Homo sapiens: one gene and its partners. The gene in region 4 interacts genetically with the main gene of each other region. Each region holds a gene or a part of one and is shown on either strand. Other genes may lie near its edges. The genes, in order: SLC39A9, HDAC8, IGF2BP1, TRAPPC12, IGF1R, SEC24A and TRAPPC11.

Region 1 (3,500 bases), on a different chromosome or scaffold from region 4:
TGGGTTGTTTGGCCCACGCACTGATACAATATTTGAATAAGTAGCCAAAGGATAAAATTCAGGAGACTTCATATAAAAATCCAGATTTCTAGCTTTGGAAAAATAGGAAGATTTGGTGTCATCAAATGATATGTGCCCTTTAGATGCCCACAGTTCTCACTTCTCCCTAATGACTCCCAGGCACTGACACTGAAGGTCAGCTGCCATATATCATGACACTGGGGCTGTCTTATTTTACTCCAGGCTTAATTCTCTGTTCAGCCTTATTTGATTTTATGATCCATTACCTACCTCTATCAGTCAGGGTCCTTTCATCAAAGAGAAAGCATAAAGTAATTTGAAGAGAGAAAGTTTAACATAAAGAATACCTACAAAAGGGGGCTGGGCATGGTGGCTCATACCTGTAATCCCAGCACTTCCGGAGGCCAAGGCGGGCTGATCAACTGAGGTCAGGAGTTTGAGAACAGCCTGGCCAACATGGCAAAACCCTGTCTCTACCAAAAATACAAAAATTAGCCGGGCGTGTTGGTAGGCAGCCGTAATCTCAGCTACTTGGGAGGCTGAGGCAGGAGAATCACTTGAACCCAAAGAGAGAGGTTGTGGTGAGCCAAGATCATACCACTGCACTCCTGCCTGGGCAACAGAGCAAGACTCCATCTCAAAATAAGAAAGAAAGAAAAAAGGAATACCTATAAAAGCATAAAAGGGGACTAGAATGATGAGGAATTGACTAAGAGAGAACCGTAAAGAATATAATAGCAGGGCCGGGTGCGGTGGCTCATGCCTGTAATCCCAGCACTTTGGGAGGCCGGATTCACCTGAGGTCGGGAGTTCAAGACTAGCCTGACCAACACGGAAAAACCCTGTCTCTACTAAAACTACAAAACTAGCCAGGCATGGTGGCAGGCGCCTGTAATCCCAGCTACTTGGGAGGCTGAGGCAGGAAAATCTCTTGAACCTGAGAGGAGGAGGTTGCAGTGAGCCGAGATCGTGCCATTGCACTCCAGCCTGGGCAACAACAGCAAAATTCTGTCTCAAAATAAAAAAAAAAAGAAAGAAAATTGGCCGGGCGCAGTGGCTCACGCCTGTAATCCCAGCACTTTGGGAGGCCTAGGCGGGCAGACCACCTGAGGTAAGGAGTTTGAGACCAACATGGAGAAACCCTGTCTCTAACTAAAAATACAAAATTAGTGGGGCGTGGTGGTGCATGCCTGTAATCCCAGCTACTTGGGAGGCTGAGGCAGGAGAATCACTTGAACCTGGGAGGCGGAGGTTATGGTGAGTCAAGATCATGCCATTGCAGTCCAGCCTGGGCAACAAGAGTGAAATTTGGAAGGAAGGAAAGAAGAAAGGAAGGAAGAAAGGAAGGAAGGAAGGAAGGAAGGAAGGGAAGGAAGGGAAGGAAGGAAAGGAAAGAAAGGAAGGAAGGAAATTAACGTCAGATAAATACAGGGTTTGCAATAGATAGTTTGATGTAATTATCTATTAGTTACCCTCAAGACCTTTTCATTTAAAAATGAATTTCCATGTAAGAATTTCCAGGGCTGGGTGTGGTGGCTCATGCCTGTAATCCCAGAACTTTGGGAGGCCGAGGCAGGCAGATCTCAAGGCCAGGAGATCCAGATCATCCTGGCTAACATGGTGAAACCTTGTCTCTACTAAAAATACAAAAAATTAGCTGGTTATGGTGGCACGCACCTGTAATCCCATCTACTGGGGGGGCTGAGGCAGGAGAATTGCTTGAACCTGGGAAGGGGAGGTTGCAGTGAGCTGAGATCACGCCACTGCACTCCAGCCTGGGCGACAGAGCAAGACTCCATCTCAAAAAAAAAAAAAAAAAAAACAAAGAATTTCCAGTCTAACTAATATTTATTTCCATTTTATTTCAATAAGTTAAAAACTGAATATTAGTATTCAAGGAAGACTGAGATTTCTGTAATTTCATTATAGGTTTTAAGAAATACCAGTACTCATACTTAGTACTACTACTTTTTTTTTTTTTTTTTAAGACAGTCTCGCTCTGTTGCCCAGGCTGGAGTGCCATGGTACAATCTCAGCTCACTGCAATCTCCGACTCCAAGGTTCAAGCAATTCTCCTGCCTCAGCCTCCCGAGTAGCTGGGATTACAGGCGTGAGCCACTGCGCTCAGCCCAGTGTGGAATTCCATACTGAGCTGAAGGGGATCTTATCATTCAACAAAAGTCTCATCATTAAATTCTTTAATTAGAGGAGAGGTTAAGACTATCATATACAGAAACATTCTGAATCCATTTCATGTCATCTTCTCTTGAAAAGGATGTCACTTCTTGAACAGCACAATTTACGACTAACCTGTGAGGATGTCAAGTGTGAAATTCATCTTGGATAGTTCACAATAGGAACTACTTCAGATTCCAAATTGGCAGGTGTTAATTTAAAAGGCATCTAAGACATATTAACTTATTTCTTATAGGTTTCAATGGTATTTGGAGACTGTTTACCTCTGGAGTTTCAAGTTCTACTCCACTGACTAGGCAGAAAGCATGAGATATACTGTGGAAGGTATGAAAGATGTTCCTAATTTGGGGAGCTAAAGGCATCAATTTAGGTAGATCCTATTTTCATTCCTTCTTTACACAGCATTCATTAGGAAAGGCAACATTTAGTAGTCAAGTGACTGATTTGGCAACAGGAATCAAAATGACTTAGTTCCAAATCACACCTCTACCAGAGTCTGTGACCTCTTCAAGCCTGAGTTTGCTCATTTGTAAAGTGAGGTTTAACAGTATCTCATAGTCTTGGTCCTGAGGATTAATAAGATAGTGCATATCATTGCCTGGTATACAGAAAGAGCTCAATAAACATTATTAATATTATTATGCAGATAAGTCTTAATTATGTTTATCAATATAGTATCCTGGAGAAAACAAAGTTTTTCAGGAAAATAATATTGAATCATATTGCAACCGGATTTTATTTGATCCAAACTTAGTTTTATCAAGGATCCTTATGAAACAATAATCTGTAGTTCAATCTGAGAAAAGACAAGCTGATGATTTCTTTCCAGATATGGATAAATTTACTGAGATTGCAAAGTTTAAAATTTTATAATTTACGTTCATTCATCTGAGACAGGGTCTCACTTGTTGCCCAGGTTGGTCTCAAACTCCTGGCCTCAAGCAAACTTCCAGCTTCAGCCTCCTAAAGCACTGGGATTACAGGTATAAGCCACCATGCCCGGCTCAAATCTTAGAATTTACAAATGAAATTCCAAACAGGTATAAAATCTCTTGTATTACCATAAGAGGGTAAGAGCAATGTACCAGACAATATAAAAGTCCTTAAAAATGTAACATTGTTAAATCTACTTCAAAGAGAACCTATTGTAGAGGCAGAAGCATACTGAATAAATCTGTTCTTCAGACACAATAAACCTTTGATTTGCGGGTAACTCAAACCCCTAAAGATACTTATTATGAATGAGTCAGTTATTATAATCAGACACTGATATGGTTTGGTTG
Region 2 (3,500 bases), on a different chromosome or scaffold from region 4:
GGGTGTCTACTAGTATAGTAAGCATAAGTGATCTGTTAACAGTCCATAAAAATCACCTGGAAAAAGAAACAGCTTTAATGTCATTCTTCTTGTTATTGTCACCTGAGGTGACCTGTGTTAAAATTTTGCACAGGACTGAGAAAAACAATCAATGGGGAAAGGATTCCCTATTTAATAAATGGTGCTGGGAAAACTGGCTAGCCATATGTAGAAAGCTGAAACTGGATCCCTTCCTTACACCTTATACAAAAATTAATTCAAGATGGATTAAAGACTTAAACGTTAGACCTAAAACCATAAAAACCCTAGAAGAAAACCTAGGCATCACCATTCAGGACATAGGCATGGGCAAGGACTTCATGTCTAAAACACCAAAAGCAATGGCAACAAAAGCCAAAATTGACAAATGGGATCTAATTAAACTAAAGAGCTTCTGTACAGCAAAAGAAACTACCATCAGAGTGAACAGGCAACCTATAGAATGGGAAAAAATTTTTGCAACCTACTCATCTGACAAAGGGCTAATATCCAGAATCTACAATGAACTCAAACAAATTTACAAGAAAAAAACAAACAACCCCATCAAAAAGTGGGCGAAGGACATGAACAGACTCTTCTCAAAAGAAGACATTTATGCAGCCAAAAAACACATGAAAAAACGCTCACCATCACTGGCCATCAGAGAAATGCAAATCAAAATCACAATGAGACACCATCTCACACCAGTTAGAATGGCGATCATTAAAAAGTCAGGAAACAACAGGTGCTGGAGAGGATGTGGACAAATAGGAACACTTTTACACTGTTGGTGGGACTGTAAACTAGATCAACCCTTGTGGAAGTCAGTGTGGCGATTCCTCAGGGATCTAGAACTAGAAATACCATTTGACCCAGCCATCCCATTACTGGGTATATACCCAAAGGACTATAAATCACGCTGCTATAAAGACACATGCATACGTATGTTTATTGCAGCACTATTCACAATAGCAAAGACTTGGAACCAACCCAAATGTCCAACAATGATAGACTGGATTAAGAAAATGTGGCACATATACACCATGGAATACTATGCAGCCATAAAAAAGGATGAGTTCATGTCCTTTGTAGGGACATGGATGAAATTGGAAATCATCATTCTCAGTAAACTATCGCGAGAACAGAAAACCAAACACCGCATATTCTCACTCATAGGTGGGAATTGAAAAATGAGAACACATGGACACAGGAAGGGGAACATCACACTCTGGGGACTGTTGCGGGGTGGGGGGAGGGGGGAGGGATAGCTTTAGGAGATATACCTAATGCTAAATGACGAGTTAATGGGTGCAGCACACCAGCATGGCACGTGTATACATATGTAACTAACCTGCACATTGTGCACATGTACCCTAAAACTTAAAGTATAATAAAAAAGAAATTTACAAAATTATCTCCTATCTGAATGAAAATGCAAAAAAAAAAATTTTGCATAGGATTGTGGCAGTAAGGCATTAACAGCATGGAACTGTCCAAGTATAAGAAATGTGTAGAAGAATTTCAGTATTTAGTCATCAAATGTAATACTGAGTTTATGATCACTTGCCTGGGAAAAATCCTGGGGAGAATTTGTGCAGGGACACGGTCATGACTTTGGAGGTGAAACTGAATGCGTCTTCTACACCTAACAGATAAAGAAACATCAAAAGAATCACTTCACATATGGCATTCCTATTTTCAACATCTGAAAATCTAGAAAGCAGCTGTGAGAAGGAGGGTAGATGAGAAGGCAGCAATATAAAACTAACAAGCTGAGGAATAAAAGTAATACGAACCTCTGGTCTCTAATCTCGTAATTACAAGATGAGGTAGAACTTTGGCCCCAAGTGAAGTTTGGGGGTTCCTTTTCAAACTCATGGAAAACTATAACTGGACTTCCCCTTTCCAAGCAATGGGATGTCTGGGCTCTCTTTGACAACCTGTTCTAAAAAGTAGGGAAAGGCGAGAGCCTAGAATTGAGGCATTATCAACAGAATTGAATAAGGGAAACTGGAACCATCTTACAAGTTGTATGTTTTGTCTTGTTTAAGTGGTTATAGTTAAAGTCTTGGGATTTTTTCCAAAGACGTACAACGTGATAACCCTTTGAAAAATATGACCAATAGAAACATTAGCCATTATATACCAAAAACCTAATTATAAAGTGCCTTTCTATAATGCAGATTTGGTTATAAATAAGTAACTTATAGTACATCTTTCTGGCTAAAACATGGAAGGCTGAAAACAGCCGTGACCTTGTCTCCTAATAGCAGCCTTATAAGAGTGTTTTAAAATCTGAAGAAAGATGGGCGAGAAAGGGGTCTGTTTTCCATTTTAACTTAGTGAGTAAACGATTAGAGGCCTGGGAGATAAAAGCTGGGATTTAAAGTAACCCTCACAAGCCTCTACGTATACAGGTAAACACACTGCCCACCTCCACCCCTTTCCTCTCAGAATCACATATAGTCACACTATGTTCAGATAATCAATCTGTAAAATGGGAGGACTATTAGCAAATTCAGGTACTGTCCTCTTTCTTACTTCAAACAAAGAAATTGTCTCTGTATTTATTTAATGTTTTCAGTCTTCACTACAGCCCCAACAGCGACTTTAAAAAAATATTAACTCTATTTATATATAACAGGTATGTTTGAATTTCCCAAGCCTTATGTTTGGCCCTAGGGAGGCAGTTAAATCCAGTTAAAGGCTCTAAGCAAAAAGCATGAAGTAAAAAAAATAAAACAAACAAAATAAATGAAAATAGTATTTCAACTTAGAAATGAAGTCTTAAACAAGGATAATTCATGAAAATCCTGATTATTGATCAATCCAGAAATGTTGTACCAATTTACACTTGGACCAATCATGTATGAGAGTTCCCAAACTATTGTTATTCTCTTTAATCTTAGGCAGAAAGAATGGTTTTGCTCTAATTTGCCTTTCTTTGAGTATTAGAGTGTTGAGCACCTTTTCATAAGTTTAGTGGCCATTTGTATTTCTTCTCATGGGAAATACCACTAGGCACAGTTATAAAATCATATTTAAAAAGGAGATGTACACAGATAGGAGGAAGCTATGGACTTGGTGGGAAAGAGGAGAGTAGTTAGGTAGATGAAAGAAGGCAAGGATGGGGTAGGGGTGGCTAGTGAAGCCACCACAGGATGCTAGTTATGTAATCATGGGAGATTTAAAATAAACCAAATGCATAAGTGTTGGGGGGTGGGGCAGGGGTCACTGTAAGGGAGGTGCTGAAGAGGGGAAATAAACTGAAATGAAACACACCATAAAAGTTGGCTAAAACAGGAAACTCTGAAGGGTGTAGAAATAACATTGCAAATGGAAAGAACACTTTCAGGTGACAGTTTCAGTTCATTCTTATGTGGTTCTGTAGAGTTGATTGTATTCTTAAACTCCGATACTAATAGTTTGAATTTCATAATCATTCATTGATCAAATATTTTAATGAGCCACTACTATATGCA
Region 3 (3,500 bases), on a different chromosome or scaffold from region 4:
GGCCAGGATGTCTCGGATCTTCCGTTGAGCCATCTGCAGCAAGAACAGGCAAGAGAGTGGGTGTGAGACCTCCAAGGAGACAGCCTTCCACGGAAGAGAGGTCATCAGGTCCAGACACAGGCAATAAACAGAACAGGTCACACAGGACTCAGAAGAAAGATAAAGAGGAAGAATGAGGGTTGGGGTGACCTTACATTTCTTTGCCTCCAGTGGAGCCTGAGTATCCCCTGGAAAATACAGCAAACGTGGTGGGTGTTAAGTGGGAGATGGGGTTGGGGGACTTGAAGGAAGGAGAAACAGTAGTATCAATCCATTCATCAGAATTTAAAACTTGACAAAGTTGATAAACATTACCAAACGCAAAACAGAATGCCTAGAGTTTCTAGGCAGAAATATATTACATATTGCAGAGCAGTGGTCCCCAACTGTTCTGGCACCAGGAACTGGTTTCATGGAAAACAATTTTTCTTCCACGGATGGAGGTGGGGGTGGGGAAGTGGTTTCAGGATGAAACCTCAAATCAGCATGCAGTAGATTCTCATAAGGAGTGTGCAACCTAGATCCTTCACATGCACTGCGCATCCCTCGAGCACTTCACAACAGGGTTAGCCCTCCCATGAGAATCTAATGCCGCCCTGATCTGACAGGAAGCGGGGCTCAGGAGGTAATGCCCACTCGTCTGCCGCTCACCTCCTGCTGTGTGGCCCGGTACCAGTCCGTGGCCCGGGGTTTGGGGACTCCTGTTGTAGAGGGTCGTAACTTAGAAGACATCATCACAAATCCACGCTTCATTTTAATACCCCAGGAAAAGGAATAATATGTCTAGATATGGCCAGGTGCACGGTGGCTCATGCCTGTAATCCTAGCGCTTTGGGGAGCTGAGGCGGGTGAATCACCTGAGGTCAGGAGTTCGAGAGCAGACTGGCCAACACGGTGAAACCCCATCTTTATTAAAAATACAAAAATTAGCCGAGCGTGGTGACGTGCGCCTGTAATCCCAGCTACTTGAGTGGCTGAGGCAGGAGAATCACTAGAACAGGGGAGGCGGAAGTTGCAGTGAACTAAGATTGTGCCACTGCACTCCACCCTGGACAACACAGCGAGACTCCATCTCAAAAAAAAAAAAAAGTAAAAATAAAAAATAAAGTCCAGATATGGGTTAGTCAAAAAGCATAAATACATAAGCTTCACTGTAAAAATGGACAAAATACCCAATCTTTTATTATTTCCTTCTTAAAAGGTTCTTCCCTAAGAATAAAGTTTTATAAAGGAAATAAACTGCAAAATGGGATTCACTTCATAGAATGAAGACCAGAATGTCTCCTTTCCATAAATGAGTGCTTCCTTTCCTGGTTAAAGAAGCAGCTGAGGCTGGGCATTGTGGCTCATGCCTGTAATCCCAGCACTTTGGGAGGCTGAAGCAGTGACATCACTTGAGCCTAGGAGTTTGAAACCAGCCTGGGCCACATGGTGAAACCTCATCACTACAAAAAAATACAAAAATTAGCTGAGCGTGGTGGTACCTGCCTGTAGTCCCAGCTACTTGGGGGGCCTGAGGTGGGAGGATCACTTGAGCCTGGGAGGTAGAGGCTGCAGTGAGCTGTGGTCACACCACTGCCCTCCAGCCTGGATGGCAGAGCGAGACCCTGTCACAAAAAAAAAAAAAAAAAGAGGAAGTTGATCTAGGTTGGGAAAATAATGTGTAAGTCAATAAGAGGTCCAACTCCATCAACCCTGGCTTGATGTTTTACATAGCTTTTCATTTAATTCTCATTCTGATCAGCTAAAATTGCTTCAGTGTTTAATATTAATATATCCTGGCTTTATGCATCTTTGGAGGTATCCTTTACTCTCTTTAAAAAAAAAACGCTGAATTAAAGATTCACATTTACCCTCTTAAGCTTCATTTATAAAATGAAATTGTTGTGGGAATTAAATGAGTTAATATACATAAGCCACATAAAACAGTGCTGGGTATACAAAGGCATCGATAAATCTTAGATATTATTATTATTATGGCTCTTATTAATACTTTTTTGTTATTTTATATATATATATAGTTGAGATGTAACTAAAGCCTCTTGTTAATACTTCTCAAAGGGTTATCAGAGAAAGTTACTTATCCAAGGTCACATAGCAGAAAGGCTATGTATGTGAAGTTTGAGGTCAAAGCTCCCTGGATCCAAAACCTTCATACTTGATGCTATACTATATGGGCACTGGAAGCCAAAAAACCAAGAGCCAGTTTGCCCCAATTGCTCTAGCAGCCCCAGCAGACCACAAGCCTGCTAAGATCTGGATATCTTCTATGAATTGTAGGAACTGTGATCAACAGTCTCCAAAGTTCCTTTCCAGTTCTAACAATGATGGATTTAAGACTTTAGGAAAACACCATTAGCTGCCAACCACCTGTTTGCTTGCCTTGCTGAGGTTCAGCAAAATTTGAACCTGATATTGGCCTTCCCTTCCATGCTCTGGAGCCTGTCCGAGTGCTGAACGGCAATGATGAGTTCTGGGAAAGGAATGGGAGGGTGGAAGAGCAGAAACCAGGGAGAGAACAGCCATTCTGCGAAAGGCAGAGGGACTACATTTCAAAAATGCCATCAATCCAGGGTGTTAGTACTGTTATCATTATTCCATGAACAAAACTAATCTTCTTTCTTAACCAGTGCAGAAAGGGGTTAGGGAGGGACTAACGTAGAACATATATATATATATTTACATATAATATATATTCATATATATGTTATTTATATATATAATGTTATACACAATATATGTACATTAAACTTGTCAAATCACTTTTCCTAGAGAGTAATAAGAGGTAATATGTCATCTACACATCCCACTTCTGCACCTGAAAGAGGGCAATAACCTAGCCTAGAGGCAGGCAGATGTGGCTGAGGCCCCAGGACTTGTCAACGTCATGAAGGTCAACCTCTATAGAGTCTCTGCTTCTCTGCTCCCTGGGCTCCTGCAGCCCTCCCTCAATGGGGGAGCACCATATGTACCTGACTGGCATAGAAATGTCCGATGATTTTCACGATGACCTGGTCGTTCTCATCAGGGGTCTGGTCTCTTGGTACTACCACCTCAGCTGCCGTCAAATTCTGCAACTCGTTCACCTGGGGGTGGCCAGAGAGGAGCTCAGGGTGCCATCAAGAAAGCATGGGTGGGGTTGGAGGGAGGAGCCAGGGTGACTAGTGGGGAGAACCTGGAAGAGTCAGGACCTGAGCTTGGGGAGTAGAATCAAGTAAATGAGCAAATCAGGAGTCCTGAGGTTGAGCAGTACAGGAGACCAGAGAGAGCTGCTGAGATTGGAGACCAAGGCCCAGGGCTTTCAACCTGGCCCTCACAGCTCACCGTTTTTCCACCTTTGCCAATGACCCGGCCAGCTGCTGATGCTGGCACACGTATGTGGGTCTCCAGCTTCACTTCCTCCTTGGGACCAAAGAAGTTCTCCTCCTTGAGTTTGCCATAGATTCTTCCCTGAGCCTGAG
Region 4 (3,500 bases):
AATGGGAAAATAAGATCAGAATGTTTAAACCTTTTAAGAAGCTAAAAGTGGATGCTCACTCTGTCTTTTCTCAATGTAACGGGCACTATCTTTGAATACGGTAGATGTCCTCATTTCTGCAGCCAGTCAATAAACATGCTTTAAGTACCTCCTGCCTGACAGAGACTGCAAGGCTGGCGGGGAGGTTAGTGAACGAGCACTCATTAGTGGTATGATCTAGCAAGGGAGACAGACAATTAAACAATATGTTTCTCAAGAATTAGCTAAATGATTTTGTGTGCATGCCAAGCGCTTCTCTGACAAGAAGTTTAGGAGTTTACATATTTTAAAAACGTGTGGTAGAGCCTGCCACACACTTCTTCTGTATACTAACTCACACACGCACTACTCCCTTTCCACGCCTCCTGCACTCCACGCCGGGACACAGAGAACTCAGGACCTGCTCATGAAACGCCTAGGAGGGCAATGAGTCTCAGCTTTGCACTACAGTTGTTCTGCAGTCCTTTATTTGGGCTTCCTCAGGCAGGAGCTAACGACCTGCTCCAATTCCAGCCACAGCGGCGGTGTGGGGGGCTGTGTTGAAGGCAGGAGAGTGGGGCTTGTGTCTTCCGGGGTTCTGACATGTGGCCTCACACTCACACTGCAGGCTCAGCAATGGCTGAGTTTACAGAGCTGAGGTCATCTGTCCCACCTCACAGATGTGACAATTAAAGAAGATACATGAAAGTGCTGAGCACAGTGCCAGGCAGGAGGCAGGCATTAAAAATGTGAACGATGCTGTTAAAAATTCCCAAACTGTTTCTTCATCAATCCAGAGTCAGCGTGTGCGTGCCTAGTGAAACTCTATGTGTAAGGAAAGGAACGGGTGCTGGGCCTTGAGCTTCAGACAGGCCAGGCTCTACGCCTGAGTAGCCGTGTGACCTGCTGCAAGCCACCAGCCGTCCCTGGGCTGCAGGCATCTCAGTTTCCTCCAGGTCTTCTGAGGGGTTGATAGTTGTTTTTTTTTTAAATGCTGAACATCCTACTGTCCACATTACCAGTGTGTTTACCCACTGACCTATCGAAGGACCCCTTGGTTGCCTCTAGTTTTTGGCAACTATGGATAAAGCTGGTATCAACATCTTTGGGCAGATTCTTGTGTGGATATAAGCATTCGGCATAACTGGGTGAAATATCCAGGAGCGTAATGCAGTAACTGGATTGCTGGGTTGTACCTAAGAGTATGTTTAGTGTTGTAGGAGGCCGCCAAGCTGTCTTCCTAAGTGGCCGTGCCATCTTGCCTTCCCTAGCAGTGAGGGGTCCCACGGCTGCACGTCCCGTGGCACTTGGTGTTGTCCATGCTATTTTTCAGCCACTCTAACTGGCATGCGTTTCACTCTCAGGTGAACTTTCCACCGTTCTCTCATGGAGTTTTTCCTTTCACTGTACCTGCCACAGCCTGACGGTGAGTACTGGCCTCCACGGCACCCACCAGCGAGCTGCAAATATTAGCAGGGCAACTCAAATGAGATTTCTTAAACTCTATCTTGTAGATTTTTTTTTTTTTTTTTTGGAAATGAGGACACCAGAGCGTACACAGTGCAGTTGGAGTCTGTGGTTTTCTTCACTAGCTGGTGTGCGGCCACTGGACCAAGTCAGAGAACCACTGATCGACGGTGAAGATGAGATCGGTGCCACGTTCCCCTAAACTGTCCAGACTACAGCAAGTAATACAGGATTTCTGTGTTCTGGTTGACAGTTCAGAAGTATTTTTAGATTGGTTACGATAATTTACTAAAACGATCTCCAAATGCCTTCTCTAGTCTAAATTCAATGCAATAATCACTTTATATAATACAAATGGCTCTGTATATTCTCTTTGAATTGCAAATGTGAAAGAGTGAGAGGGAAAGAGATTGTGCCAAGTCTGAACCAGTTCTATATATGCATCTAGGCAGATTCTGTATCCAGGGGCAACTAATAACTGCTCCCTTCCTGGTTCCCTAGGCCTAAGGCTCTGGCCTTTCCTGCTAGAAAGGCTGGGGCCCTCTTCCCTCAGGACATGACCTACAGTGAGGACAGGCAGGAGTTAATCAGGGAAGGGGAGGGGGCGGAGACCCTAGAAGAGGACAGAATGTGTGCAAAACAAGGCGAGAGCAGGCATGGGGGGCACAGGGAGCAGAGGGCAGGGTGCAGGGCCCGAGGGGATGCAGTAAGGACCAGCGGGCCGGAGGGAGGCGGTGGAGGAGGGGCCGAGCAGGTGTGGATGAGGAGAGGCTGGGGAAGCAGGTGAGGATGGGGTGGCACAGGAGGTGAGGCAGAGGAGGGTCGGGTGTGCTGGCCTTTGCAGGCTTCCAAGAGCACAGGCCACAGCAGTGTCGTGTCATCACATTTGAAGGCCCCTGTCTCCCTGCACTGATGGGGTGAACTTAAGGCGTCCGTGTAGATGTGAGTAAAGCTATGAGGATGTTCCAGCAGCTGGGCCTGGTGCTGGCAATCTGTGCACATCCTTTGGACGCCCCCCACCCCCTACTGCCTGAGTTGGTAGGCAGAGCTCACAGGAACCCAGAGCCCAGCCTCGTGTGCACCTGCACGGTGATAAGGTTCTGTGCTACCATGGAAGAGCTGGGCATTCACAGCAGAGCTGAGGAGCTGGACAGATACTGTATGGCCAGGAAGTCTACAATGTTTATTCTATGGTCTTTTACAGAAAACGCTGGCGGATCCCAGGTCTAGGCCCCTCGTGGCTCAGTAGTTCATTTCTGTTGACTTCAAGGAGGACTGTGGGCTGACTTCAGCCCGCGAGTGGCTTGCGTCTGATACCTGAGGACGAGGCACAGGAATGGAGATGCTCCTGTAGTCACGTGACAGAGAACTTTATGTGTATGGCATGCAGTGATAACAAAGCAGGGGCCTGCATTTGGCATGTTTTCCATTTTATTCTTTCATGACTGATTATTGTGAATTAGTTATTATTTATATTGATGGTGCAGAGTGGCAGAAGCAGGCGAGTATTTGTAGAGATATGGTTTTCCCATGTTGCCCAGGCTTGTCTTGAACTTCTGGGCTGAAGTGATCTACTCACCTCAGCCTCCCAGAGTGCTGGGATTATGGGATTACAGGCATTAGCCACTGTGCCTGCCACTATGACAATGTTTTTTTTTTTTTTTTTTTTTGAGACAGAGTCTCTATTGCCCAGGCTGGAGTGCGGTGGCACGATCTCGACTCGCTGCAATCTCCGCCTCCTGGGTTCAAGTGATTCTCTTGCCTCAACCTCCTGAGTAGCTGGGACTACAGGCGCCCGCCACCACGCCCGGCTAAAGTTTGTATTTTTAGTAGAGATGGGGTTTCGCCATGTTGGCCAGGCTGGTCTCGAGCTCCTGACCTCCGGTGATCTGCCTGCCTCGGCCTCCCAAAGTGCTGAGATTACAGGCGTGAGCCATCACGCCCGGCCAATGACCATTTTTAAAAATGAGAAACTTAAGGTTTTAATTCTCGTGGAAAGAAGAACAAAGAAGTTC
Region 5 (3,500 bases), on a different chromosome or scaffold from region 4:
GTTTACTTTCCTCTGCTTTTGTCCCCACTCCCCAGAAACCAAGACCACAGCAGAGGAGCAGAGTCCCTGGGGCAGGGGCTGTGTTGCTTTGAAAGACAGAGTAACCACGGAATAAACAGCCAATGCAGGCTGTCGCCCTACACTGCTTCCCAAACTTACTTGTACAGGATGCCTGTGGCACCTGGCTATGTTTTGAAGTCAGGCCCTTTCCAGCACAGACTCTGACTTTTTTCCCTCTTGCTTCACTCCTCCTCTGTGAGGCTGAGAGAGGCAGTAAAGATAATTAGGAAGGGCAGAGATGGACCCAAATCCTGGCCTTTCCTCTCACCAGGCAGCAGCTGTCAATACTCTTTGAGTTTCCCCTCCCTGCCTCTACCACAGGGTGCCCACCTGCTCTCTGTGGGGGGTTGTGGCTGAGACAGCAGTACCTGTCACACCGGTGGCCCCAGCAACCCAAGCCCTGGTCCCTGTTCCCTTCAGGGCTGACTGGCTTCCGCAGGGACTCACTTCACCGAACCTGTCATCTTTTTCGGCTCCGTCTCAGTGGCTACTGTATTGTACCCCCCAGCTGCTGACTTACACACTACCTGGTGGGGAGAAAGGCAACAGAACCGGCCTGAGCAGTGGGTTTTGCCAACTGAAATTTCACATGAGCTGGGTACCTGGGCACGAAGATGGAGTTGTGCAGGAAATTCTCAAAGACTTTGCGGTATTCAGCCTCCTCCTTCTCGGCCTGCTTCTCGGCTTCAGTTTTGGGGCAGGCGCAGCAAGGCCCTTTCTCCCCACCACACACCTCAGTCTTGGGGTTCTCTGTGACCTCCTCAATGTCGATGGTGCCGTCGGCATACTTCCTGATGGGGATTTTGTCTTCTCGGAAAAGAAAAGCCAAAACAAGAGTGGGAATGAAAGCCGTTATACATGCTTGTAAGGAAAAATAATAGCTCTCAGTACCTTTAATCAAGAAGATAGCTGGTCTCGGCCAGATGTGGTGGCTCAAGGCTATAATCCCAGCACTTTGGGAGGCCGAGGCGGGCAAATCACCTGAGGTTAGGAGTTTCAGACCAGCCTGGGCAACATGGTGAAACCCCGTCTCTACTAAAAATACAAAAATTAGCTGGGCATGGTGGTGCATGCCTGTAATCCCAGCTACTCGGAATGCTGGGGAATGAGAAATGCTTGAACCTGGGAGGCAGAAATTGCAGTGAGCCATGATCGTGCCACTGCACTCCAGCCTGGGCAACAGAGTGAGACTCTGTCTCAAAAAAAAAAAAAAAAAACCAGAAGATAGCTGGTTTCCAATGGAGAACTACACTGTTGTCTGATACGTGTAATATTAGGGCTCAGGCACATTACAACCACAGGAATGAACGGTCACACCCTCCGTCCAGGCCGCTGCTGCACCCTTACCTTTGGAGCAGTAATTGTGCCGGTAAAGGTAGCCGTCCTGAGGCTGCCGCTGCCAGCGCACAATGTAGTAACTCAGGTTGCCGTTGGGCAGAGAGGGAGGGTTCCACTTCACGATTAACTGAGAAGAGGAGTTCGATGCTGAAAGAACGTCCAAGGGAATGGAAGGAACTGGAGAGGGGAACAAAGAACATTCTAGAAAATGAAATGAACTTAAGAGTCAGGCTATCAGATACTCTGGCAAGCCAACAGGAAACTGCCAGTTTGACCTGGATAAGAAAATAACAATGAACAATGAAATACAAAGTGAAAAGTGAACCTTATTTTGAAATAGTACTACTATAAATGCCAACATTTCCCTTTATAATCTATTTCCTCCGGTAATCTCTGTGAAAACAAACATTACTGAGTTGTAAATGGAAAAAGGCTGCGGGGGCACAAGCAGGGTTAGAAGAGACAATGTGAAAATCTACAGCTAATTCAAACACCTGGTATTTCTCATTTATTACAACTGCCATTCTCCACAGTGCTGCACTCCGGCAATTTCGACAACTGGTAAAACAGGCTGACTTGGATTTCATCTGAGATTTTGAATCTCTGATAAAAATGTCATGAAGCCAAATGGAAAGAGGAAGTGGAAAGGGGCCTGGAGAGTCTGTGTGTGTGAAGGAGTGTGCATGCCCATGTCACAGCTGTGTGTAAGAGGGATGGGGGAGAGGCAATGCAAAGAACACGGAAGTCCACCATTTCCACAGGCATCCTTCAGTACAATGACTGAGGCATGACTCTGAAAAGCAGTTTAGAACTGCAAACGCATGGAAGCCTCATTTTGAGCAAAGGACTCTGTCACCAGCAGAATGAATGCCGATTATAGGCAAAGCATAGTTATCTGATCAAGCTTTACTTATGCTGACCCCTGAACTGAAACCCAGAGCTGAAGTGTGCATAAAGATCAAATGCATCCCAGAACCACTGAAATCTTGTCCTTATTGGGTCACAAAAAAGCATCAATGTTGATGGTTTTTCAAAGCACAGGAGACACCTTCACTGGATATCACTTAAGCAATATGTTTGCCTAAGCCATTTTTAAAACTTGAAAAGGGCGGACAGCTTGAGGGTGCTCCAGGTTATACGATACACACAAGGTTCTGAACATCTTTAAGGGATGATACTTTGGAAAAAGGTTATGACTAATACTGGCGTTTTCAGAGAAAACACAACCACTTGATGCTCAGCCACTTTAGGGTTTCCAAAAATAAGTACTTCAAAAACAAACAGCTCATTCCTAGATACATTCTTACGATAGGTGTCACCAAACAGCAGAGGCAGAGGACCAAGTTCTCGTCTGTCTCCGCTGCGTGTAAGGACAGAGGACAAAACGTAGTGAACTGACTCATTGGTACAGTGCCTGGTTTCCATCTTTGTGGAAAGGAAACAGGTTTCTTGAGAATCTGTCACAATAAGCAGATATTCCTATGTTTCCCAAACACTACAGTGAATTGCTGGCCAGGGGTTACTTCCAAATTTTAAGATGAAAAACTTCTTCTGTTGCACTGAACCTCTGCTACACCAACCCACACGCAGGATCAGAAGCCTGTGCCAATTTTGTTTCAATAAGCACTTTACCCAGTGACATGACTGTGGCCACTTACAGGGTCATGGAGATGGGGTAGGAGTGGAGGAAGGAGCAGGCGTGCACAGCAAAAGGTTTTCCCCACCAGCATTTTCTTCTCACCCTCCTCTCTGCCATTTAAACTGATTTTGTGCTCGCTTATGGGTATTTAAAAACACCTTACCCACTAAAATAATGGCTATTATCAAAGAATGTTTATCAGTGCTATAGAGTGAATGCCTGTGTCCCCTACCAAAACTCACATGTCAAAATCCTAACCCCTAAGGGGATGGAATTAGGAGGCATGGCCTTTGGGAGGTGATTGGGTCATGGGAGTGAAGCCCTCATGAATGGAATCCAGGCCCTTCTATGAGAGGCCCCGGAGAGTGCTCCCGCATCCCTGCCACCATGCAAGGACACAATGAAAAGACAGCCATCTATGAGCCAGGGAGTGGGCCCTCACCAGACACCAAATCTGCCAGCG
Region 6 (3,500 bases), on a different chromosome or scaffold from region 4:
TATCCTTCCTATAAGTCGTCTGTTTTCCAGTAAATGTCCTCTCCCCCACCCCATTCTTCCCCTATTAAAATCGTGTAGAGGTTGGGCATGGTGGCTCATGCCTGTAATCCCATCACACTGGGAGGCCAAAGCAGAACTACTTGAGCTCAGGAGTAGGAGACCAGCCTGGGCAACACAGCGAGACTCCATTTCCACACAAAAAAATTAAAAATTAAAAAATTAGCCAGGAGTTGTGGCACATGCCTGTAGATCTAGCTTCTCAGGAGGCTGAGGCAAGAGGACTGCTTGAGCCCAGGAGTTTGACTTCAGTGAGCTATAATTAGGCATTCCACCCTGGGCTACAGAGTGAGAACGTGTCTCAAAAACAAAAAGGAAAAAGTGAGCATGATAGTCACCCAAGTAATGTTCCAACATATTCAAAATTAAAACAATCAAATCAACTGTGGTTTCAAACAAAATGTAGCATATTGTTTAATGTTTTAAAATTGAATTATATTGCTTTTGATTTTTTTTTGAGACAGAGTCTCGCTCTGTTGCCCAAGCTAAAGTGCAGTGGTGCGATCTCGGCTCACTGCAACCTCCGCCTCCTGGGTTCAGGCGATTCTCCTGCCTCATTCAGCCTCTCGAGTAGCTAGGATTACAGGTGTGCACCACCACGCTGGCTAATTTTGTATTTTTAGTAGAGACGGGATTTCACCATGTTGGCCAGGCTGTTCTTGAACTTCTGACCTCAAGTGATCTGGCCACCTCAGCCTCCCAAAGTGCTGGGATTACAGGCGTGAGCCACCATGCCCAGCCATATGTTGATATTTTTAATGTTTGGTTTTACAATAGTACAATAGCTATAACCCTATGAAGTTTACATCTAGTTTTGTGTTTGCATATACACATTTAATAAAAATAATTTTTGCCAGGCATGTTGGCTTGATCTTGTAATCCGAGCACTTTGAAAAGCCAAGGTGGGAGCACGGCTTGACCTCAGGAGTTCAAGAATAACCTGGGTAATATAGTGAGACCTCGTCTCTACAAAAAAATAAATAATTAGCCAGTTGTGGTGGCACGTGCCTATATTCCCAGCTACTTGGGAGGCTGAGGCGGGAGGATCACTTGAACCCAAGAGATCAAGCCTGCAGTGGGCTGTGATCATGCCCCTGCACTCTAGCCTGGGCAACAGAGTGAGAACCTGTGTCAGAAGTAAAATAAATAAATAAATAATTTAACATTGGGACAGCAGAGAAATATTTAGTATCTATACATTACTCAAATTTTTAAAAACTGATTTGAGGAAACAGCATTCATGGGATTTTATGTGGAATTGAATATGGGTGATGAAGAGAGGAAAAAATCTAGGATGACTCCTAGGTTTCTGACCTGAGCAACCTGGTGGATGGCCGTGTTTATTCATTTGAACAGAAAGAGAAAAGAATAGAAATGTAGGCCAGGCACGGTGGCTCATGCCTGCAATCCCAGCACTTTAGAAAGTCAAGGTGGGAGGATCACTTGAGGCCAGGAGTTTGAGACCAGCCTGGGCAATAGCAAGTCCCTATCTCTACAAAATATAAGTTTTGGTTGTGTGTGTGTGTGTGTGTGTGTGTGTGTGTGCGTTTTTCAGAAATGAGGTCTCGCTCTGCCACCCAGGCTGAAGTGTCACAGCTCACCGCAGCCTCGACCTCCCAAGCTCAAGCGATCCTCCCACCTCCCCTCTTGAGTAGCTGGGCCTACAGGCGTGCACCATTATGCCTGGCTAATTTTTAAATTTTTTTGTAGAGATGGGGTCTCCCTAAGTTGTCCAGGCTGGTCTCGAACTCCTGGGCTCAAGGGATCTTCTTGACTCGACCTCCCAAAGTACTAAGATTACAAGCATGAGCCACTCCACCCACTTGATCAAGGATCAAGGATTACTTGAGCCCAGGAGTTCAAGGCTGCAGTGAGCTATCATTGCATCATTGCATTCCGGCCAGGGCGACAGAATGAGAGCTGTCTTTAAAAAAAAAAAAAAAAAAAAAGTCGGATGCAGTGGCTCATGCCTGTAATCCCAACACTTTGGGAGGCCGAGGTGGGTGGATCACCTGAAGTCAGAAGTTCGAGACCAGCCTGACCAACACGGTGAAACCCCGTCTCTACTAAAATACAAAAATTAGCCGGGCATGGTGGCACACGCCTATAGTCCCAGCTACTCAGAGGCTGAGGCAGGAGAATTGCTTGAACCTGGGAGGCGGAGGTTGCAATGAGCGGATATCGTGCCACTGCACTCCAGCCTGGTTGACAGAGCAAGACTCTGTCTCAAAAAAACAAAGGTGGGGAATGGCAAAGGGAAGAGAGATCGAAGAGTTATTTTAAACACACTAATTTTCAGGTGCCACCAAGAAATCTAAGTGGAGATGTCCAGTATAAAGATATTTATCTGCGCTGGGCGCGGTGGCTCAGGCCTGTAATCCCAGCACTTTGGGAGGTCAAGGCGGGCAGATCATGAGGTCAGGAGAGCAACACCATCCTAAGACGGTGAAACCCCATCTCTTCTAAAAATACAAAAAATTTGCCGGGTGTGGTGGCACATGCCGGTGGTCCCAGCTACTCCGGAGGCTGAGAAAGGAGAATCGCTTGAACCCAGGAGGCAAAGGTTGCAGTGAGCCAAGATCGTGCCACCTCACTCCAGCCTGGGCAACAGAGCAAGACTCTGTCTTAAAAAAAAAAAAAAAAAGATATTTAGCTGCAGCCAAAGTGACAGATTTCACCTTAAGATATAATTATGGGAGTCACTGATCTATGCATAAGATTTAAAACCATGGGAATTAAAGACACCCAGGGAGTATATAAGAGTAAGAAAAATAGGTCACCTTGAAGAACACCAATATTTAAGGAGGAGAGAGAAAAAAACAATCAGAAATGGAAGAAATATTGAGAATACTGCTGTTGAGAAATAGCAACCAAAAAAAAGAAAGAAAACCATAACTACCCTTCTGGTGATATCCTAGAAACCAAAGAAAGCAATTGTTGTAAAAACAAAATAACAGCCAAAGGTATCAAATGCAGCTCGGAAAATGAGAACTGAAAAATATTTTTCTATTTAATAACCAGGAAGCCATTTGTGGCCTTATTTATTTATTTATTTATTTTGAGATGAATTCTTGCTCTGTCGCCCAGGCTGCAGTGCAATGTCATGATCTCGGCTCACTGCAACCTCCACCTCTCGGGTTCAAGTGATTCTCCTGCTGAGAATCACTCAGGAGGCTGAGGCCTCCTGAGTAGCTGGGATTACAGGCGCACGCCACCACACCCGGCTAATTTTTGTATTTTTAGTAGAGACAAGGTTTCACCATGTTGGCCAGGCTGGTCTTGAACTCCGGACCTTGTGATCCACCCGCCTTGACCTCCCAAAGTGCTGGGATTACAGGCATGAGCCACCACGCCCAGCCTTGTGGCCTTATTAAGGACAATTTTGGGATGTGTGGGTAAAGAAGCTAAATTAGAAAGTTAGAGGCAAGAATGAATGCAGATGA
Region 7 (3,500 bases), on a different chromosome or scaffold from region 4:
AAATGCATCACAGCAATATGTCTTTGAAATAAACAAAGCCTATTGGATTTTAGATAATATTTTATTTGAGCAGTTTTACAAGAACAGAAGCTGGAATGGTGAAGAATATAAGTAGAATTTACCTGGAAATGGGCTACTTTTTTTTTTTTTTTTTTCTTTAGCAAAGTATTTGAGACCCTTGACATCATTAGACATGCATCATCGTTTTATGCATTCAGTTATGGGGCTGATAGAAACTCTTTGGCTTCAGTCATTCTTTAAATGGGAAGTATAGCTTCTCCAGGGTTGAGATTCCACCTTCAACACTTACTAGTTCTTACTGAATCTGTAAGCCTGAGTTTCCTAATCAAAAATGGGAGGTGTGTATATTGAATGAGATCAATGCACATAAAGTGCTTGGCACTCAGTAACAGGTGGTTTCTGCTCCTGTCAGGTAACTTTTCAATTTCTGCCAATGTTTGCAGAGAACTTCATATGAGTGGTACATTCCTAAAGGGATCTTAAAGACTGGCTGGATGAATAAGCATCTGAATCTGGTGCCAGCCCTGGTGGTTGTGTTCTATGAACTGGACTGGGATGAGCCTCAGTGGAAAGAAAAGCAGTCTGAGTGCGCCACCAGAGTGGAAATAGTCAGGTATGATCTTCTGTGTCAGGGCAGCTATGTCAGTTTGCACATGTGTGTTATTCACTAACATTCCTTGAAGGCAATGGAGTACCGTTCAGACTGCAGTGGTCACTTTGCGGATTGACCTCCAGTGAATCTTGTTCACTTCCTCACAGGTAGCATAATTATTGACTGTATATAATGCTGGGTACGTGAAGAAATTTAGAAGACTAATTGGTCTGAATTTCCAAATGTTTTTCTTGTATTATCTTTTTTGGAGACATAGTAATTTACTGTTTAGTCTCTTAAAACGCTTTGCTTTATCACTGTTTAAGTTTCAAATAATTAATTCTTTTGGATGACTACTCTGCAGTGTATCACCATAAAGAAGTAAGTTGCATTATAACTTTTACGTAAAAGTATACATTAATCTTTTGCTTTTAAGGAAGATTTTTAAGATTAGAAGATGTGAGATCATACTTTTAGAATTTAAATCATTGTGACATATATGTGCTTTGTGTGCAGGAAAAGATTTCTTCTGATCTTGGTTTTTTTAGTTGAAATTTATCTTCGGTTGAATGACCAAGGTTGTATTTTATGTGAAGTCATGAATACATTTTTTAAGTTAAAATAATTAATTTTATTCTTGCTTTTTCATTGCAGGCAAAGTTTACAAGGAAGAAACACAAAAGTTGCAGTGGTTCTGATTCAGAAGAAAACCCCTTTGCCCCCAGGTATCAGAAGTCTAATTAATGAATTAATTGTTTTATACCTCCAATTCTTATTAAAGGGAGATAGGGGTTTTTTGGATGTTTAAATCTTTTATGCATTCAGTTATGGGGCTGATAGTATGTTAACTTTAAAAAGCACCAATGATACATGAACAAATGCTTATTGTAAAAAATTAAAGATAGTGAAGAATGCAAATCTCAAGTTCCCCTAGTTCCCCTGTTCCACTTGTCTTCTTATGTAGGGGATATAGGAAGGCATGTTCAATTCACAAAACAATTCGCTTGAATTTTTTTACAAGAGTATAATTTTTTTTGACTTCCAAAGCTTTCCAAAAAAGAATATAATTTACTTATCTAAGATCTATTTGAAGCTGTATTCCTTATATGAAATTTTTTCATTAATTTTCTGTAGGGCAAAGAAAAAGGCTATAGGATTTGTAGTTTTCTCTTGGAAAATGTCTTAGTTTCAGATTCTTATTTCCACTTTCCCAGACTTTTGTAGACCAAAATATATTTTTGTTTCTGTGTTGAAACTTATAGCATCCAAAATGGTTTTGGAGACTTCTTTCATGAATTATTGCTTCCAGTTTTAGTTATGTTTTTTGAAATAGTTATGTGGTATATCTGTTGGCATTACTTGGCCACCTATCCTGGCTCAGTAGAAAATTCCACAGTGTTTTCCTAAAAGGCATATACTGTGTAACCTCTAAGAACCACACAGAGCTCTCAAGGAGCCCAGGAGTCCTGTTGGTGTGATGAAAAGCTGTTTGGGTTTTTATTCCTAATTCTATTTTTTCAGACTTGGGGAAATATTTATTTGGGAAGCTACATTAGTTATTTTATTTCTCATTCATCTTGATGGGGATTATCAACAGGAGAAGATGTCATTGCTTCAGAAAGGGCTGCAGCTTTATGCAATGCATGTGAACTCTCAGGAAAGTCTTTGTTTGTACTGCCGCACACTGACCACCTTGTGGGTTATATTATAAGGTAAGTAGAGGTCTTTTAAAGTTTTGTTTTTTTAGATTATTAAGAATTGAGAAATTGGTAGCTTAGACCCATTTATTTTTTTAAAAAATCATGTTCATGAAAAACATTCATATGATACAGAGGCTATGGGGTAAAAATAAAAGTCTTTTTTGTTAAATTCTTAACCCTCTCCAATTCCCTGAGGTAACCAGTATCAACAGTTGCTCAAGTTTCCTTCCAAAAAAAGTCTTTTTGTATAAGAACAAATATATGTATTTCTTTATAGTATCCATACCACACACACAAACACAAAAACATAAATGTGCTCATATGATACACAGTGATCTTCCACTTAACATTACCTCATTAACATGCTTCCATATGTGCATCTAGGTCAACTTTATTTAAAGAAACAAAGTTTATATGTTTCTCCATTATACTTTCCAGTAATTACCCATGTCCTTGAGTGACATGTATGTCCTTTTTTGTGAGAGTGTCTCCATTCCACTCTGGCCTGTTTTTGCTTCATTCTTGAGCTGTCGATGTATCTATGTCACTAATTTCTTAGGAAGGTGTGAGCCCTATCATATCTTAAATATTTTTATAAAGCCTTTGTGTATAAAGGGCAGATTACCTGGAGACACAACATTACCTCAAAAATCATGTGGTCATTATTCATTGTTTTGTAGCATTTATTGTCACACAGAAGTTTTGTAGTAGTACATTTTATGCTAGGATGTATTTAGATATGAATATTTTCATTGATTTTGACTGTAAAATGGTTTTCCTTTTCATTCTGCATAAGTGTCCTTCGTTAACTCATGAACAGTTTTATTTATTTTTGAGTATTGCTTCTCTTGCATTTGTTTCTTTCTCAGAAGCAAACCTCTGAAAATGATCCGCTGCAGGAGGTTACCTGGCCTTCTCACTGGTATATAAAAGACCAGGCTTCTAAGAAAGAGAAGCATACATTTAGCAGAGAACATGCAGAGGAATAGGATCAAATGAAAAGATGAATTGCAAAGAAACTTAAATGCAATTAGCAAAATAAATCTTTACACTGGAAGCAGTAAACAGTAGAATTCACACCACAGAAAATCAAGTCCATGGTGCCCAGGGTAACATTGAGATAATTGCTTAGAATTCAGAGGAAAAGAATAAATGAGTTTTATTCCTTAAATGCAGACATATGAGCA

The links.
Region 1: changes in TRAPPC12 (region 4) and SLC39A9 together harm fitness more than expected from each alone (negative genetic interaction), as found in Homo sapiens cells (one large-scale study listed by BioGRID).
Region 2: changes in TRAPPC12 (region 4) and HDAC8 together harm fitness less than expected from each alone (positive genetic interaction), as found in Homo sapiens cells (one large-scale study listed by BioGRID).
Region 3: changes in TRAPPC12 (region 4) and IGF2BP1 together harm fitness more than expected from each alone (negative genetic interaction), as found in Homo sapiens cells (one large-scale study listed by BioGRID).
Region 5: changes in TRAPPC12 (region 4) and IGF1R together harm fitness more than expected from each alone (negative genetic interaction), as found in Homo sapiens cells (one large-scale study listed by BioGRID).
Region 6: changes in TRAPPC12 (region 4) and SEC24A together harm fitness more than expected from each alone (negative genetic interaction), as found in Homo sapiens cells (one large-scale study listed by BioGRID).
Region 7: changes in TRAPPC12 (region 4) and TRAPPC11 together harm fitness less than expected from each alone (positive genetic interaction), as found in Homo sapiens cells (one large-scale study listed by BioGRID).

The regions. Positions count from the first base shown.
Region 1 is NC_000014.9:69,405,192-69,408,691, reverse strand, and holds part of SLC39A9 (zinc transporter ZIP9), read right to left. Parts: intron 1-3,500. UniProt on the Homo sapiens protein: Transports zinc ions across cell and organelle membranes into the cytoplasm and regulates intracellular zinc homeostasis. Participates in the zinc ions efflux out of the secretory compartments.
Region 2 is NC_000023.11:72,489,344-72,492,843, forward strand, and holds part of HDAC8 (histone deacetylase 8), read right to left. Parts: intron 1,664-3,500; coding exon 1,586-1,663; intron 1-1,585. UniProt on the Homo sapiens protein: Histone deacetylase that catalyzes the deacetylation of lysine residues on the N-terminal part of the core histones (H2A, H2B, H3 and H4).
Region 3 is NC_000017.11:49,045,885-49,049,384, reverse strand, and holds part of IGF2BP1 (insulin-like growth factor 2 mRNA-binding protein 1), read right to left. Parts: intron 3,496-3,500; coding exon 3,364-3,495; intron 3,126-3,363; coding exon 3,012-3,125; intron 34-3,011; coding exon 1-33. UniProt on the Homo sapiens protein: RNA-binding factor that recruits target transcripts to cytoplasmic protein-RNA complexes (mRNPs). This transcript 'caging' into mRNPs allows mRNA transport and transient storage.
Region 4 is NC_000002.12:3,417,694-3,421,193, reverse strand, and holds part of TRAPPC12 (trafficking protein particle complex subunit 12), read right to left. Parts: intron 1-3,500. UniProt on the Homo sapiens protein: Component of the TRAPP complex, which is involved in endoplasmic reticulum to Golgi apparatus trafficking at a very early stage.
Region 5 is NC_000015.10:98,914,039-98,917,538, reverse strand, and holds part of IGF1R (insulin-like growth factor 1 receptor isoform 1 precursor), read right to left. Parts: intron 1,576-3,500; coding exon 1,408-1,575; intron 868-1,407; coding exon 663-867; intron 1-662. UniProt on the Homo sapiens protein: Receptor tyrosine kinase which mediates actions of insulin-like growth factor 1 (IGF1). Binds IGF1 with high affinity and IGF2 and insulin (INS) with a lower affinity. The activated IGF1R is involved in cell growth and survival control.
Region 6 is NC_000005.10:134,655,285-134,658,784, reverse strand, and holds part of SEC24A (protein transport protein Sec24A), read right to left. Parts: intron 1-3,500. UniProt on the Homo sapiens protein: Component of the coat protein complex II (COPII) which promotes the formation of transport vesicles from the endoplasmic reticulum (ER).
Region 7 is NC_000004.12:183,665,793-183,669,292, forward strand, and holds part of TRAPPC11 (trafficking protein particle complex subunit 11), read left to right. Parts: intron 1-464; coding exon 465-634; intron 635-1,267; coding exon 1,268-1,338; intron 1,339-2,210; coding exon 2,211-2,325; intron 2,326-3,500. UniProt on the Homo sapiens protein: Involved in endoplasmic reticulum to Golgi apparatus trafficking at a very early stage.